Regions from separate parts of the Homo sapiens genome. Here region 2 is linked to region 1. Evidence: fine-mapped expression QTL. A gene starts in region 1. The other region holds a variant in brackets. All regions are shown on one strand. Distances are between the middles of the regions.

What was found.
Region 2: its variant is fine-mapped to the expression of GPSM2 in esophagus mucosa (GTEx, PIP 0.97).

The regions. Positions count from the first base shown.
Region 1 is chr1:108,872,859-108,882,300 of GRCh38, forward strand. It overlaps GPSM2 (G protein signaling modulator 2), which reads left to right and starts at 4,127. Exons shown (of 15, transcript NM_013296.5): 1 at 4,127-4,370. RefSeq lists an enhancer at 3,783-3,882 and silencers at 3,963-4,362, 4,453-4,522.
Region 2 is chr1:108,825,477-108,834,918 of GRCh38, forward strand. AKNAD1 (AKNA domain containing 1) reads right to left here. Exons shown (of 16, transcript NM_152763.5): 9 at 8,971-9,052; 10 at 5,083-5,174; 11 at 1,729-1,826. It overlaps LOC105378891 (a long non-coding RNA gene), which reads left to right. Exons shown (of 5, transcript XR_947687.3): 3 at 8,714-8,860. Among named protein-coding and RNA genes, the nearest start is that of AKNAD1, 27 kb to the right of the region's middle. The variant A/T (reference allele first, on the strand shown) is at 4,630.

The DNA of each region.
Region 1 (9,442 bases):
TAGGCATTTAAACATAAATGTTATGGAGCAGATCACAGTATGTTTTTAAACAGATCCCTTCCTCTCTCTCTCTCTCTCTGTCTTTCTCTCTCTCTGATCCAGGATCCCCAGCAAGACTAATGTGCCTTTTTGTTTTTCATGACATTGACATTTATAAAGAGTCTGGGCTAGTTGCAGAATGTCTCAAATTCTGGATTTGTTCCAGAGTGCTTTTTTAAAAATATAAATCAGGACCAGGCATGGTGGCTGACACCTGTAATCCCAGAACTTTGGGAGGCCGAGGCAGGCGGATCACCTGATGTCAGGAGTTCAAGACCAGCCTGACCAACATGGTGAAACCCTGTCTACTAAAAATACAAAATTAGCTGAGTATGGTGGCACATGCCTGTAGTCCCAGCTAATCGGGTGGCTGAGGCAGGAGAATTGCTTGAACCCTGGAGGTAGAGATTGCAGTGAGCTGAGATTGCACCATTGCACTCCAGCCTGGGCAACAAGAGCAAAACTCCATCTCAAAAAAAAAAAAAGATATATATATATATATATATATATATATATACGTATATATATATACATATATATATATACGTATTTTATATATATATATATATATATATATATATATAAATCAGATGAAGTTATTCCCATATTTAAAACCTTCCACAGGATTCCTATAATATTTAGAAAATAAAGTCCAAACTCACTACCCTGGCTTACAAAGGTCTACATTGCCTTTTGTATGTTTTCTTCTTTCTCACTGCAGCCACAGTGGCCTTCCTCCGGTTTCTCAAGTCCACAAAGCTCTCAAATCCTGCAAAATCCTCGCAGGACTTTGCACTGGCTGTTGCCTTTTCCTAATGTGCTTTTCCCTGAAGTTTGCTTGAAGGCTGGCTCCTTCTCATAATTCAAATCCCAGTTTGAATGCCGTTTTCTCAGAGAGGACTTCCTTATCTTAGCCCCCAATCTGAAGTAAAGTAGTCACTTACTCACTCTCACATCACCCTTCTTGTAACTCTCTGCATGGTACCTATCATAACCTGATATTTTTCTTTTTCTTTTTTCTTTCTTGAAGCAGGGTCTGGCTCTGTCACCCAGGCTAGAGTGCAGTGGCTGGATCATAGCTCCCTGGAGACTTGAACTCTTGGGCCTCAGCCTCAGCCTCCCGAGTAGCTGAGACTACAGGTGTGTGCCACCACACCAGGCTAATAAAAAAAATTATTTTTGTAGAGATAGGGTCTCACTATGTTGCCCAGGCTGGTCTCAAACTCCTGGCCTCAAGCAGCCGTCCCACCTTAGCTTCCCAAAGTGCTGCAATTACAGGTGTGAGCACACCCAGTCCTGATATTTCTTGTTGTTTATTTTTGTTGAGCTCCAAGAGATCAGGGGCTGTGTTCTGTTGTGCTCACTACTATATTCCCTGTACCTAGAACAGCTCCTGACACACAGCAGAAGTTTAATACATACTTGCTGAATACTGTAATGAATAAGCTGAGAGCTGAGGATGAAAAGAAGCCAACCATTTAAAGAGCTTGGGGAAAATCTAGGCAGGGAGGAGGTCCTGAGAGAACCTTGAGGCTTAGTCCATTCTAGGGCATGAAGAATGCCCTGTGTACTTGGAGGAAAGTGAGGCAGCAGGAGGAAAAAATAGGAGAGAAGAGAGAAATTGGCAGGGGCAAGATGGCTTAAGGCCTTTTCCCCCACAGGAAGTTTGGATTTTATTTTAAATTAAATGGGAAATCACTAAAGGTTTACGAGTACGAGAGTGACATAATCTGACTTATGCCATTTAAAAGATATTTTTCAATTTGAGTGATTAGGAAGATGGAAGTAACTAATATCAGAGATAGAAATCACATATGTAAGAGAAGATTTGCAGGGGGTAAATAATTCTGGACATGTTGAATGTAATGTTGTACTTCTGGCTGGGTGAGGGGGCTCATGCCTATAATCTCAGCACTTTGGGAGGCCAAGGCAGGAGGATCCTTTGAGCCCAGGAGTTCAAGACCAGCCTGGGCAACATAGTGAGACCTTTTCTCTACTGAAAAAATAAAAATAGCCAGACATAGTGTCAAGCTCCTGTGGTCCCAGCTACTGGGGTGTAGGGGAGGGGTGAGATCGGAGGATCACTTGGCCCTGGGAGGTTGAGGCTGCTGTGCAGTGATCTCCAGCCTGGGTGACAGAGGGAGGTCCTGTCTCTCTCTCTATATATATAAAATTTCCTTTGTGGCTTTCACAGTATCCATACTTTAAAAGAATTTATAATTAAGAAGGAATTAATACCTACCTCTGAAACAGTACAGCCAACCAATTCCATTGTTATTTACAAGAACCTGATATTAAAGATGGTTGTAACGATAATAGGTATCAAGTATGGAGCAGTTTCTATGTGTCAGGCCCTATGTCAACCACTTAACAACCTTACCTCACAGAAGCATCATAGCAACCCTTATTAGAAGAGGCTTTATTATGTTTTACAGGTGGGGAAACTAAGACTAAAGAAGATAACTCATTCAAGGTCAATCAGCAAGTAAGTAGCAGAATTGGAACTCAAACCCAGGTCTAGTTTGATGATAAAGCTGTTCCTTTAAGCAATTTGCCATAACATGCACCTAATGGGAAATGTTGCTTGGATCACTGGTTATGGCCATCATTCACGGAGATACTGAACCCGGAGTTTTCTTTAACATAGCCTTTACCCTGTAGAAACATTTAAACTTCATTTCAGAAGAGAAATATCTATTTGAAAAATAATCTAAGTAAATTCATCAGATGCTTTACCCCAGAGAGACTCTGGTCTTGGTATTTTGGTTTTTGTTGTTGTTTGAGACGGAGTCTCGCTCTGTCGCCGAGGCTGGAGTGCAGTGGCGCGATCTCGGCTCACTGCAACCTCCGCCTCCTGGGTTCAAGCAATTCTCCTGCCTCAGCCTCCCGAATAGCTGGGATTGCAGGCGCCCACCACCAGGCACGGCTAATTTTTGTATTTTTAGTAGAGACGGGGTTTCACCATTTTGACCAGGCTGGTCTCCAACTCAGGTGATCCCCCCGCCTCGGCCTCCCAAAGTTGCTGGTATTACAGATGTGAACCACCGCGCCCGGCCGGTATTTTGTGAAGAACAAACTATAAGGTGACTACTATTTTGGGGTCACCTTGACATGGAGGAGAGGTGAATGGAAATAAAACTTATTCTTCCCAGTGTCTTTAGAATGTAGGCGCTGAAACTGAGTGAAACTGAGTAAAACTGCCACCCAATTTTCCTGGGAACCAGCGATTCTGTAGTCAACAGAAGTTTGCTTTTCCAACAGCTGGAAACGCCAGGGTTGGGCACAGCCTCAAGAACTGAGGCTGCCTTGTTCAGACTTTCACACGGTCCCTCTGTTCCTTCCACAGAGGCCTCTTTTTCTTCTATATCCCGCATCTGCCGCTTGGGACACTCATTCTGTAGCGCAGCACCAAGTCTTCCAAAAAGGCGGCGCTGGTTTTGCGCTCCTTTTTTAAAGGGATCTAGGCCAGCCTCTATCTGAACTCTGTACGATGTTTTTTGTTTGTTTGTTTTGTTTTGTTTTTGAGATGGAATTTCGCTCTTGTTGCCCAGGCTGGAGTGCAATGGTGCGATCTCCACTCACGGCAACCTCCGCCTCCCGGATTCAAGCGATTCTCCTGCCTCAGCCTCCTGAGTAGCTGGGATTAAAGGCATGCGCCACCACTCCCAGCTAATTTTGTATTTTTAGTAGAGACGGGGTTTCTCCATGTTGGTCAGGCTGGTCTCGAACTCCCGACCTCAGGTGATCCGCCCGCCTCGGCCTCCCAAAGTGCTGGGATTATAGCCGTCCGTCACAGCGCCCGGCCAACTCTAGACAATATTTATTGCTCTACTTTTTAGTGTCTGAAGAAGAAAGAAGAGGACAGGAAAGAAACTTCAGTCTGAGGGTTGAGGACACGTCCCGGAGCAGAGGAGGACCAAGCTCCCAAGCCCCCTGTCACCTTGACACGCAGACGGTTCCCCAGGACTGCGAAGAGGGGGGCAACCAGCGCCCCGCCCCGCCCCGCTGCGCCGCCCGCCATTGGCCGGTCCGAAAGACGCGGGGCGTTGTCGGTTTGAATGAGAGCGCCTGGAGCCGGGGCGCAGGCGCAGAGGAGGGCGGTGTTGAGACCGGCGGAGCGGCGGGACCCCTAGGTGGCGGAGGGACGCTCCGGGAAAGCGAGGGGCGCTACGAGCTCTGGCCCACGTGACCTGCCGGGGGCGGGAGCAGGGGGCGCGCCGGCCTCCTGCGGTGCCCCTGCCTTGGGGAGGGGCCGTGACCACCCGTCTGTCGCCCGAGGCGGCCGCCGCTGCACCTTCACCGCGTACCCGGGACCCGCCCGCCCGCGGGAGGTGAGCGCTTCCGCGACGCGGGTTCTGAGGCGTTTGAGGGGCTCTCGGAGGGAGGTGACAGGGAGGGGTGCGTGTGCGTGCGTGTGGGGCTTCTGTGTCCAGAGGTCTGGGGGTGACGTCCTTTGTTTTGGGCAGGAGGCGGGCTGGGGGCTTGCGGGACCTGTGGGCGCTGCGGGGACGCGGCGTCGATGCTCAAGAAACCAGAAACTCGGCTTGAGGAGTTGCTGCTTTTTTGTCGGAAGGTCTTCAAATGAGAGTAAAGCGTTAAGAGCCTCACTCCTGAGTCTTTTTTTTTTTTTAAGATAAAAACTATACTAGAGTCCAGCGACTTCTTACCACTCTGAATGTGAGTAACAAATTGTGAATCAAAGCCCGAATCCCCGTGGAATTCATTCCGAGGCTGATTGCAATCACTTGGAGTCGGGCGCGTCCTACCTAAACCAGGCAGTTTATGGCAAATACCTGCCTTGACCGTGCTTAAATTAGTGAACTTTTGGGCACCAACTGGTCGATTTACCATAGAAATTGGTAGTTGCTGCAAAAAGAGTAAGTAAACATAAAACGTTAAGAAAACTCTTTCCTGAAATCTATAGAATACCTTCGAATAAAAAAAAATCTGTAATTTCCTTGTTTTAATAGTAACCAGTTAGAGCATTTGAACTAGTAGCATTTGAACTCTGTTAAAGAAAACGAGTAAGGATGGAAATTTTATTGGCCTTAATGCATAATTTAACCACACCGTAGAATTAAACGAAGTAGGTTCTTGGCTTTCCTTTCTATCGGGTTTGCATTGGAGCGTTCGTGGGGTGTGTTGGAAGTCAGCAGGACCAACAGAGCTGAGTTTTCAAGCTGCCACTTTAGAAGGGTGTACCGAAGATTTCTGGCCTGATAATAGCCGGTGTGATTGCTTCTGATAAATACCACTTTTGATTGGGTTCTCACTATTCAGGAGCAGCTTTAGTTGATTGTTTAGAAGTGAATAAACAACATTAAAAAGGGTAGATCACTGTTGGTTGACATGGTGTGTGTAAGGAGAGGGGGGCCTCAGGGATTAGGGGTGGTCTCACACCTACTTCTCTTTACAACTACCACGGAGTCGTTTTCGCAAGCTATTTCCCAGGCTATTACTTATAATTTAAGTATTGGAGCGGTTTCAAAGTAAAAAGTTGTGTGATGTTGTTGTAGAGGCATGTCTCCAAAATCCTCTCTGGCCAGATAAGCAGTTTAATTGTATTTTCTTACATTCTTAAATCAGATATTCGGTGTTACAAACATATTTTAATATAGATCTGAGACTTGCTTACTAGACTAATTAAAACAGTGATAAGATATAGTAGTTTTAAAAATGACCTTTTCATAAACATAAAATATTTCTAAGATCTATCTTTAGAAATTTGTAATTAGTTCTCTGGAATTTTAAAATGGAAAATCTGACATAGATTTAGGTTATTCTAAATTTATTTGAATATATATTAAATATGTCTATTTTATAATAACAGTTACTGTTATTACTACAGCACTATGTTGAGTACTTTTGTTATGTATCAGAGCCAGGTGCTGGGTCAGGTGCTTTATAAATCATGTCTGTAATTATCACAGCACATTTTAGGTAAGTGTCATTATGCCCACACCAACTGAGAGTTTAGCGTAAGATCATATAACTAATAAGTCACTGTGCCGAGATTCAAATCATGGCCTGATCCCAAAGCACATGCTGTATTGCTTCTGTGTGTCTGTTTAAATCTCTGCTGTGTCTCTGGATTCCATTTGTAGGGACAAGTTCTACTTTAAAGATGCCTTTAGGTGCTGTGTTTTGTTGTAGCTTCGCAGAAATATTTCAATCTTTCTGTTGGAACTATCTTGCTTCATTATTTTATAAATCATCTTATAAATCACATTATATTTTCAATATCTTCTTAATCATCTTTATACAAAACATAAGTGAAGAGTAAGACTTTTCTGAGTTTCTTACATAAATATGAATAGAATCTTTACTGTGGAGAAGAAATGTATTACAGTCCGGTTTTCTCACTATTGTAGGATTCTTTGGCCTCGTCATAATTCCTGTCTTCTTCCCAGGGAAGAAATTAAAGTTTGTTGGGCCTCTCTTATGTGCAAAGCAATGTCGTTGGTGTTGTGAGATGACAAGAAAATGCTTCCTATTCAGTAGTTGTTTCTGGAGTTTTTGTAGTATTTTTCTTTTCTCCCCATTCCTGCCTTATATGTTGCTGCTGGTTTATCTTCCTAGCAGAGATCCAACTTGGCTATTCCTTTGTGGGGAAAAAATACCAGCAAGGTTCCCCATTGTGTAAATAAAAGGCTGAGGCCGGGTACGGTGGCTCACGCCTGTAATCCCAGCACTTTGGGAGGCCGAGGTGGGCGGATCACGAGGTCAGGAGTTCAACACCAGCCTGACCAACGTGGTGAAACCCCGTCTGTACTAAAAATACAATAGTTAGCCCAGTGTGGTGGCACACGCCTGTAATCCAAGCTACTCAGGAGGCTGAGGCAGGGAGGCGGAGGTTGCAGTGAGCCGAGATCGCGCCACTGCACTCCAGCCCGGGTGACAGATCAAGACTCCATCTCAAAAAAAAAGGGGGGGCTGAATATGAATATATGCTTCTGCCACATGTTCAGAGTCCCTCACAGTTTGTTACTGTTCTACCTTCTCAGCCTTCTCTTTCACTACTCTGAATACTGTGTGCTTATCCTGGAACACATTCTGTGCATTTCTACCCTCCCTTTTTCTTGAGCCATTCTTTTCCCTTGACTGGAATGCCTTTCCTTCATTTGGCTAATAAGATCTACCCATCCTTCAAGGTGCTGTACAAAATTCCTTGCTTCCAAAAAGTTTTCCCTGGTCCTTTTCAGTTAGAATTATTATTCCCATATTATCACAAAACATTATTGAATAGAAACATTTATTTTCCCACAGAATGGTGATAACTTTTGGGAAGAGAAGACAAAATCATGTTTAATATATTTTCCTATGGAGAATTCTAAACTCAAACTCTCTAGGGACCCTTTCTAAGCATTTATAATATTTCTGCATTTGGGATTTATTTCTGCTTTAAAATGTGTTTGGGTCAGGTGCAGTGGCTCACACCTGTAATCCCAGCACTTTGAGGGGCCCAGGTGGGCGGATCACTTGAGACCAGGAGTCGAGACCAGCCTGCCCAACATGGCGAAACCCTGTCTCTGATAAAAATACAAAAATTAGCCAGGCGTGGTGCTGGGCACCTGTGGGAGGCTGAGAGAGGAGAATCACTTGAACCCAGGACGTGGAGGTTACAGTGAGCCAAGATGGCGCCACTGCACTCCAGCCTGGGCGACAGAGTGAGACTCCGTCTCAAAAAAAAAAAAAACAATGCTTAGTGGAAAGGACCATTTCTTTTCTATTTCACTATTGAGCTTTAAAATTATGTATATGTATTAATTGATTGAAGCTGATGACTGGACCATCGTTGGTAATAATAAATGGCTATGCTTACCAAAAAGGTTTATATATAGTTCAGATGATCTAACCTGGTGGCAAGAAAAGTAAATTATATTTATTGTCTGATGAATGTTACCAGTTTGTGTAGATCCATGGATGGAAGAAACAGACCAAAAACAAACAAAGAAACAGACCAAAAGTTATTGGCATTTAAGTGGCAGTCAGGATCAGATAGTTTAGATAAATTCGAAGAAGCACAAAATGTAACCTGGTTTGCAAACTTTTTACTGCCAGTGGAGTAAAGCAGGGCTAGGATTTCTTTGATAAAGAGCTAGCCTTTCTTGTCTGCTCTGATTGCATACCTTGGACAGTGCCTGGAAGTCCACCTAGCTGTCTAAAGGGAGTCTGTCTATTTTGACTTCCTAATCAGATAATTAAATGTGAGGCAGTTAGAGTTATGTACTAGTTGATCTTTCTATATGTCTCTGTCAATTCCCGGGATATGGAAAAAATGATTGCCTTTTCTTTATGGTTAGATGCCGTGATCTAGCAATTTTGTTAATTTTGAGGTTTTTGGAGCATTGCTTGGAAGATGCTATTAAGAGACAGATTTGTTCCTTGCAGATTGTTAGTTGTAAATAGTAGTGGAGGTTGGAGGTTGAACTTGATGACTTCTCAATATCCTTTCAAACCTACAAATTATTTTCCAGTTCTTCGTCCTGTGATTAAATTTTCTTATCCTAATGATCAAATTTGTAATTTAATATTTGTTGCAAATTTTACTAGTCTTACACTATATACACACACATTGTATCTAGGAAGTAGGTTTGTTAACTCCATGTAATGAGGAACATGAGTGAACACATTATTGCTAAATTGGCTAGAGAGTTCTTAAAACATGAATCATGAATCAAGAATTGCTTGTTTGTTCAGTGAATATTTTTTTGTGTGAAGTGCTACCTAATTGTTATGGAGATTGTAATGTAAGAGGCACTTTTAAAGATATTCTTCCCTTGAGAATAGTAAGACTATATTATAAATTGCTCTTATTGAAATAGTGAATAGCATTCTGTCTTCTTGCTTATTTTAATGGTCTTAGAAATGGTTCTTTCTACATGCAGTTTTCATCAAGTAAAATATTTTGCAACTTTATTTATATTCATTTACTTATTCGTTAATTTGTGAAACATGTAAATGCTACATGTTTACATCTTAAGGAGTATGAAATTAACATTTTATAATTGCAAAATTTAGAATTTCATTAAGAACTCATGGATGAGAACAATATTTTGTTTTATTTTTTTAGAGACAGGGTCTCACTCTGTGGCCCAGACTGGAGTGCAGTGGTGCAATCATCGATTACTATAACCTCCAACTCCTGGGCTCAAGCAATCCTCCTGCCTCATCCTCCCAAGTAGCTGGGGCTATAGTCACAGGCCACCACACCTGGCTGATTTTTCAATTTTTTGTAGAAACGGGGTCTTGTACGTTGCCTGGGCTGGTCTTGAACTGTTGGTCTCAAGTGATCCTTCCACCTTGGTCTCCCAAAGCACTGGGATTACAGATGTCAGCCACCGGGCCTACCTAAGAAAAATATTTAAATTTAATATCAGTATCTGTGGGGAATTGGTTCCAG
Region 2 (9,442 bases), 47 kb before region 1:
GTTTTCAAACTTTTGATTCCAGAACCCTTTTACACTCTTAAAATTGAGGACCCTAAACAGCCTTTGTTTCTGTGGTTTTAATCTACCATAAAATGATAATATATACCATTTTATATACCTGAGGTGAAAATCCCCCCTCATTGGAGAACAGCTAGCATTCAACATTCAGTCCACTGCAGATGGATTGGTAGAGAAGTACTAATGTATAGATTACTAGTCATTTTTTGCTTGTGCAAATCATTTAGATTTCCCAAAACTAAATGAGCAGTTCCAAGGCGCTTTTTTTTTAGAATTTTAAACTGAGAGGTTTAAAAGATAATTTTATTTATTATGGCATTTAAAAAGTAATAAATCCATGTCATATTAACAAAATAGCAGTTTTTAATGAAAATAACTATTTCTAAAAAATTTAGTGAGAAGAGTGGCATCATTTTACGTTTTGGCAAATATCTTGAATATCTGGCTTAATAAAAGGCAACTGGATTCCATAACTGCATCTCCATCAGTTGCCTGTAATACTAGCGTTGCACAGCTATATGGCTGGTAAAGGAAGGACCTGGTGGCCCCCCCGAAAGGGTTTCAGGAAACCCCAGGGACCCTCCGATTACACCTGGAAAACTCCTACTTTGTTATACCATCTGGCATAATACGTCTTCAATCAATGAACCCTATTATTATTTGGAAATGTGTCATCTACAGAGAAGCCAGTGCAGAACCAAGTGTGACATAACAGAAGGCAGAGCTGGAGGCATGGCTCTGGGCCACAGGCAGTGCAGATGTAAGAAAGCCTGGGTAGCTCTCCAGTGCAGCTTCCTGGTGCATAAGCTGGGGAGACAAGCTGGGTAGGTAGGTTAGGCTCAGAGGTGATTTTTAAGCTCAGAAGCTGCCTGAGCAGAGGCCTCCAGCCCCACCTCTTCTCCCAGGGCAGTTCTGCTAGATGTTTCTCTCCTTAAACTATCTTTGAAAAAAAGGATCTTATGACTAAAAGCCATTGAATTGCGTGTACTGGGGCACCTCCCAGCTCCAACTTTCTTTGCTTCTATGAAATGCATATATCCAAAGCAGCAGCAATTCTCACGTAGCCAGTAACCTTACCAGGTACAGTTATGGGTCATGTGGGAAGGATGAGGATGGACAGACTGAATGACATCTTGTGATTGAGTCCATGGAGTCCTTCATTTTCAGCTAGAAACAGGTGTTCATGCTTTACTCTACTTAACCACATCTTATTGAAAGTGATTCTTTTTTTCTTTTCTTTTCTTTTTCTTTTTTTTTTTTTTTGAAACAGGGTCCTACTCTGTCGCCCAGGCTGGAGTACGGTGGCATGATCATGGCTCACTGCAGCCTCAACCTCCCGGACTCAAGCAATCTTCCCACCTTAGTCTCCCAAGTAGCTGGGACTACAGGCGTGAGCCACCACACCTGGCTAATTTTTGTATTTTTTTTGTACAGATGGAATGTCACCATGTTGGCCAGGCTGGTCTTGAACTCCTGAGCTCAAGTGATCCACCCGCCTCAGCCTCCCAAAGTGCTGGAATTACAGGCATGAGCCCCCATGCCCAGCCTATTAATTCTTTACATTTTGCAAATAAATAAATACAACATGCAACATCCTAGTGTAGGGAAATGCTCTTGGAGTGGCAGATGGCAAGCTGGTGCCTACTGCGAGCAGACCCCATGGGGAGGGACACTGAAAAATGAGCACCCAGCCCAAGCCCATCAACTTACTGGGAGTTGAATCTGAGTGTGGTGCCTTTTCATGAAGGACAATTGAAAATCTTCCACAGTTGATCCTTCCGTGGCCCTTTTTCTCCACGTTTTGCTTCCTAAAAAAAGGTGCATAAGATCCTGTAAACTTTTAGTGCATTTCCAATAGATAGGGAAAGTTTTGGTAAAGTTGAAACGTTAAATTTTGTTATATTAGAGCCTGGAACAGTGTAGGAGGGGCTTGTCATCCTCTACACAGAGCTCTCCTCTGCCTGCCTGTTTGAGAGCTTTTCTACAAGAAATTGCACCCCAGCACAATTTGGCCTGATAAGAAAATGTATACAAGACAGGCCAGGCGCGGTGGCTCACGCCTGTAATCCCAGCACTTTGGGAGGCTGAGGCGGGCGGATCACGAGGTCAGGAGATCGAGACCATCCTGGCTAACACGGTGAAACCCTGTCTCTACTAAAAGTACAAAAAATTAGCTGGGCGCCGTAGTGGGTGCCTGTAGTCCCAGCTACTCGGGAGGCTGAGGCAGGAGAATGGCGGGAACCCGGGAGGCGGAGCTTGCAGTGAGCCGAGATCGCGCCACTGCACTCCAGCCTGGGTGACAGAGCGAGACTCCTACTCAAAAAAAAAAAAAAGAAAATGTATACAAGACATGAAAAATAAATGTTTTGTTCTGCCGAGGTTAATATCTAATCATCACATACACATTCACAAAACACATTTGAAGTATGGAATTATAAAATTTGGAGTTTTCCTCATGCATCAAAATCCATTCCAGGCTGGGTATGGTGGCTCATGCCTGTAATCCCAGCACTTTGGGAGGCCAAGGAGGGTGGATGGCTTGAGACTAGGAGTTCAAGGTCAGCCAGGGCAACATGGCAAAACCTCATCTCAAAAACAAACAAACAAACAAACAAACAAACAAACAGTTCCTACCAGGGGAAGAAACTATGCTATACGTCAGTAATGGGTCACGTAGCTTTGGTCCTGGAAGTACAAGCTGATTACATCCAACAACTCCAGCAAAGTGGGCTTTGCCGGGTGTCTGTGGGACTAAAGGCTGAGGGAGCACGTGAAGGTGATTTTAGTTGCACATGGCCACCAGGTGGCGTCAGAAAGAAGCAACTGCAATGGACATTGTTCAGGAGCCTTCCTGTGGCCCACCTGCAGCTTCCTCCCTCCTCCTCAGAAATCCCAACTCCTCCAAAGGAATTCGAATTAATAACAGTTCTGAACAAAGCTCTTGCTAAGCTCCTGGGATACAGTCATAGCCCCCAGGGAAAGTTGTTCATTCTTAGTATGGAAGGCACTGTGCCCGAGATATCCTGGCATAAATGAGGCAGATTGCCCAGGGCTAGGGTTTGAGCCCAAGGCATTGCTGGGCAAACACATGCTCGCCGCGCTGTGCCCTGGCCTGCTGTTGGCGGAGAAGGGATGGGGCTGCGGGTTTGTGGGGCTGGGGCTGAGAAGCCAGGCTCTTTCCCTCCTCTTGGAAAAACATGCTGTCCTCTTGAGTCACATATTTTCTCACACCTCATTTTCTGTCTCCACCCTTCTCCTCTGGGGCATTTGAACATCTGCTCTCCAAAGTGGGAAACTTGGATCTCACTCAAGTGCATGCAGTCCAACACAGGACTTTTTCTGCTTTTAAACTCCTTTGTGTACTCAAATCTTCTGGCCAAACATAATTCCTCTGGAGAAGACAGTTTTTCAACAAGACAAAGCAGCTAAAGTACACACTTAAATCCAAAGTTTTGCATCAGAAATAACATAAAGGGATAAGCATATTTTACATTTTATACATATGTAATTTATCCACTTATATATAAACAATTTACAAATATCCTGAAAACAGTATGTACCTCAGCAAGCTTCATAAAGGACAAGTCCCATCAGAGAGAGATTTAATCTTCTAACAGAAAGAATATATAGTCCTCCCTTCAATCAATAATTCCTCAGGGATTATGTAAGTTACAAGATTTTAATTCATAAGTCATGTGTATCTTCTCATCACTCCCCAGCAGTGGATTCACTGTGAGATTTGATTTTACACTTGGTTGTGCTTGTCTTTCCAGCTTGTCTATCATAAAAAAGTATTATTTAGTCTGGAACATTGGTCCCTGTCTTGGTACTTAATGTACTTCTGTAGGGTCTAGACTAGGAATTTAGAAGAGAGAAATTTAGTACCTTGAGTGCTTAATAAAAATGGTTCTTTAATGTCAAAATACTTTCATTATACTTAGTAAAACCTTTAAAAATCCAAAATTAGACTTTAATTCAATAAATAAAAATAGTAGGCCTGGGATGACTCAGTGAGTAAGCTTCATGAGTGCCCCTTGGATTAAAGGGCAGCTCAAAGCTGATGACTGACATGGTGGTTTAATGACCCACACACAATGACACATGACCATTTTTAGCACGAGCTTCATGCAGTTTCTTTTTTCAGGGGTGGACACTCATTAGAACTCTTAAGGCAGGTGCCCATTCCCACAATGGAATGCTTTCTAACAGGAAGCCTCAGTCTTTCAGACCCTGTCATCTGCTTCTATTAGAATCCATTACGTACATATAACAGTGGTTGCTAAACACCTGCTGCCTCCCTGACTCTTGACCTTCCAAAGGTCAATGAGCCGAGCTTTGGCCGGAGTCCACAGTGAGCTTAGAGGTAACATCTCTCGCTACCTGAAAGAAGCTTCAAATAAATGATACTGAATCGACACAGATTAATAGTTGCACCAATGGGTGTTTCAAAAACAAAGGATTTCTCCTGAGGATTTTACATGATTTACAGCTTGTTAGCTCTGGAAGATTTCGTCCTTAGGAATGGGAAGAAATCAGCCCTGAGAAGAGGGATGAGGCTTGTTCCTGGGACTGGGGGGCTCAGGTGAAACCCAACAGAGAAGACTTTTGCTC[A/T]TCATAAGGAGAGAGTAGGGATGGTGGGAGCTGTTTGTTATACAGGATAAGAATCCCCCATGTGGGCAATGATCAAAAGCCTACAGGACCACCCTCCGTGGGCTGTAACCATGATTCTTAACCAAGGGGGCTTATCGGAATCACCTGGGGAGATTTAAAAGCAATATTCCTACCAGAGCCCCACCGCTGGCGATGCTGAGACAGTAGGTGGGATGGAGGCATGTGCATGATTGTAAAATCTCCCATGGTGATTTTGATGGTCTCCCCAGTTGAGGACCACTGCTAGAGGATCTGTAGGGTGCGAGGGAGGCTGGGCTCTGTGCCCAGGCCTGAGATCTGTGACTCTATAACTCAGCCAGTGGCCTCAGTTAGTTGCCGCCCACTCTCACTGGAGTTACTATGCCAGGACTGACTCCAATCCACCCTGGGAATGTAGCCACAAGAAGCCCTCACCATTCAAGGAGCCTGCGACAGAAGGCACAGCTCGGACTGGGTGCCGTCATCTCTGCACAATCCTGCCTTCTTGGAGTGCCGTTGGGATCCTCCTGCGCCACAAAGCACACAGATGGAGATGTGATAGAGGATGTGACTCACGCCGCGGCTGCACACGCACAGCCCAGCAAGCAGCTGAGGTCCGGCTGAACTTGCCACCTCAGGCAGAGAGACTCGCCAAACCTCTCCTCCAGTTGGGGAAAGGGAGGCGCAGGGGGACAGGAGGGAAAGAAGAAAGAGCCCATCCTTAGTTCTGATGTGTCACTCAGTCGGGGCTGCGCCTCTAATGGCCTGGGCTGAAGAATGGAAGTTTCCACCCTGGCTTGCTTCCTTCCTCCTCTAAACAGATTTTAAAATCTGGTGTACAGATGACAGAATACTCTCCCCTTTTTATCTTTCCCTTAGTTTCAAATTACTCCAAGCTTCGCCAGATAATGAACAGATTTAGGAACATAATTTTTAGATCTATTAATCTGACCGCTGGCTAGTAGAGCTCTAAAAGCCTTTCTAAATAAATATATTCAACTATGAATTAAAACAGGGTTTAGGGACTGTCTGGGGGCCTAAATGATTGGTTATATGTCCCTCTTTAACACAAAACAATTACTCCACTGACCTGTGAGGGCTGTTACCACCCACTGTGTATTTTTGACTAAGGTCTTACCCTTTATGTAAGTAAAAAATAAATGTACTTTTCCCATCATTATAAACAATGGCAGAAGCATCATTGTACACATAGCTTTTTCCACATCTTGGATTACTTCCTGAGGAAATGTCTGGGCCAAAGGTTGCGAACATGTTTGTGTGATGACCCATATTGCCAAATTGCTTTCCACAAAAGTTGTACAGATTTCACAGCCACCAACAGTGTGGACGGCTCAGTTTGACCACACCTTCCTCTGCATCAGGAATTATCACTTGAAAATGTTTCTGTTAATTGAAGGGAGGGGTGTGTCACCTTTTGTGTTAATTTGCATTTCCTCTGTGACTAAAGGAAATAAGTCTGTTCCTATATGCTGATTTATTGGTTGTATTTCCTACCTGTGACTTTTTTTTTTTTTTTTGAGACGGAGTCTCACTCTGTTGCCCAGGCTGGAGTGCAGTGGCCTAATCTCAGCTCCCGGGTTCAAGCAATTCTTCTGGCTCAGCCCCCCAAGTAGCTGGGATTACAGGTGCCCACCACTACCCCCAGCTAATTTTTTGTATTTTTAGTGGAGACAGTTTCACCATGTTGGCCGGGCTGGTCTTGAGCTCCTGACCTCATGATTCGCCCACCTCGGCCTCCCAAAGTACTGGGATTACTTTAATTGTGAGTAATTGTGTGAGCCACTGCGCCCGGCCTTACTTGTGACTTTTTAGCTCATGTCCTTTGTCCATTAATTTTCTTGGAGGGTTTCAGTGTTTTCCTGTTACCATTTGCTAGTTGTTCATGATGTGCCAGGTGCTTCCCTTATAGTCTCCTTAATACTTCCAACCATCCTGGCACGTTGTCGCCATTTTAATGGTGAGTGATCTGAGGCCTGGCGGATTTAAGCAATTTGGCAAGGTTGCATCATGAGTAAGTGGGAAAGCTGGGATTTTAACTTTTACCTATCTGACTGGTATGCTGTGTTCTTTTTTTTTTTTTTTTTTTTTTGAGATGGAGTTTCTCTGTGTTGCCCAGGCTGGAGTGCAGTGGCGCAATCTTGGCTCACTGCAACCTCCACCTCCCTCCCAATTTCAAGTGATTCTCCCACCTCAGCCTCCCTTCCAAGTAGCTGGGACTACAGGAACACACCACCCCACCCAGCTAATTTTGGTATGTCTTAGTAGAAACAGAGTTTCACCATGTTGGTCAGGCTGGTCTCGAACTCCTGACCTCAAGTGATCCACCCGCCTTGGCCTACCAAAGTGCTGGGATTACAGGCGCGAGCCACTGCACCCGGCCAGTATGCTTGTGTTCTTAACCACAGTTCTGCTCCTTGGGGAATTTGTCACAGCATTTGATATAATGAAGTTCTCAACAATGAACATTATTTGCCCTTAATATTTTCTCAGTTGTCTATCTACATTTTTTTTAATTGATGGTGGTTTCAGTTTTGTAAACAACTTAAAATATCAATATTGTCAAGGAGGAGGTGCGAGTGGCCAAGAAACATATGAAAATAGATTGAGTTTCAAAAATAGCAAGATTAAAATAATGAGATATCAGTTTTCACTTATGCATTTGGCAAAAGTTGGAAAAAGAAAAAAATGTCTGGGGTAGGCTCAAACTGGGGACACCAACATTCCCACGCACTGCCCTCAGCCTATAAACCCCCATGGACTTCCTAAAGGCCAGATTATCAGAATTTTCAGCATGTACCATTTGAACCATTAACTGCAATCCTAGGGTTTTATTCTAAGGAAATGATCAACTACAAATGTTTGCATGTCAAATGATGTTACCTGAAGCAGTGTTTATGATATCAAAGAACTGGAAAAAACTAAATCTCCATCAATAAGAGATTGTCTAAATGTGTCAGAGTACATTAGTATAATGAAATATAGTACAGTCATCAAAAATGAAGCGATAGTTTATTCTAAGTGATGTGGAGAGCTGCTCAAAATATAACATTAAATGAAAAGCATAAAACAATATATATAGTAAAATCCTATTTTGGCCAAAATGTATATATAGGAGAAAAAAAGACTGGAAGGATATACACTAAAATATTAGCAATGGGCCAGGCGCAGTGGCTCATGCCTGTAATCCCAGCACTTTGGGAGGCTGAGGTGGGTGGATCACCTGAGGTCGGGAGTTCTAGACCAGTGTGGGCAACGTGGTGAAACCTCCTCTCTACTAAAAATACAAAAATTAGCTGCACGTGGTGGCACATGCCTGTAATCCCAGCTACTCAGGAGGCTGAGGCAGGAGAATCACTTGAACCCAGGAGGCAGAGGTTGCAGTGAGCTGGGATCGCACCATTGCACTCCAGCCTGGACAACAAAGCGAGACTGTCTCAAAAAAAAAAAATTAGATTGATTTTCCTCTCAGTGGAAGTTTCTTCTTTATACTTTTCTTTATTTTCTCATTTCTCTTGTAATAAGCATGTATCAGTTTTATAATTTAAAAAAAAAGGGTTTTTTCATCCATTTTTCCCATGGTTTTTTTTTTTTAATTTTTATATTTTATCATTGCTGAGCTTACAGGGTTACTCCTCCACTGACATTTAAGGCAGATTTACATTAGCAGAATGCAGGGAGGTGCCCCTCCACCTGAGTTGGAGACCCGGGCATCACCTATCATTTACCCTGAACAAATATCACCTTTCTAAACTACTCTTCCTCTGCAAAAAGTCTTTGCAAACTGTAAAGCTCTGAGCCAACATAATTATTATATCATTGTTTACTGCTTATTATAATATTATAATATAATATCATTTAAGACCCCGGGGTTGGTAATCCCAGCATTTCCAATTCATTCGAAATGAAATAATCTCTAGACCCTCAGAATTTAAAATGTGGTCCGCAGACCAGAACCAGCAGCTTTGGCATCACCTGGGGCTTGTTAGCAATGCAGAATTGCAGGCTCGCCCCAAACTTACTGATTCAGAGCCTGCATTTTAACAAGATCTGCAGGTGATTCATAGGCTCGGAGAAGTTGGAGAAGCTCCGGTCTAGGTACGCCTGCCGAGATTCTCAGGAGTGCAGAAAGTGGGAAACCGTCAGCAGTACCAGCCATCACCAGCACTGACACCCAGGATGCCATTAGGAAGAGGTAAGTGATCTTGATTATGCCAATTTCACAGTCACATTCAGCAACACTGGTTTTAGTTAAAGAGCCAACAATGAGAAGAACCCAGCCAGGCCCCGGCTGCAGGACATTACCCCAGAGTTAGAAGACAGCCTCATGGCCACTTGGTCTGGCTTGTTCTGGGCAGCTGCATCTCCATAATGACCGTTTAGGTAACTAATTTAAAAAAAAAAAAAGCAGTTTGAATGTTAGAATCAGTTCTTGAGCTACCTGGGAGCTCCACTATTTGGAATCACTTGGCATCACCCCTGGGATGGTGGGAGCGAGCAACCTAAGGCAGAGAGTGCTATGGGCCTCATGCGGCCACTTGACCTTCACCTCTCCCCGCGTCCCCCAGCCCCAGCTGTCCCGTCCCTCAGATCTCTGCCCAGAGGGTTGCAGAGGCTGGCCAGGCCCTGCTGGTGGGGCAGGTGAGGAGCCAGGCTACCAGGCTTTGTAACTCGTGGTCCAAGACTGCTTTTCCTGTGGGAGCCTCATGGGCCTTCCTGGAGGCTGCATGAGGAAGGGGCCTCTTTCTGTGTCCTGTGTCTGCTGGGGCTCCAGGGC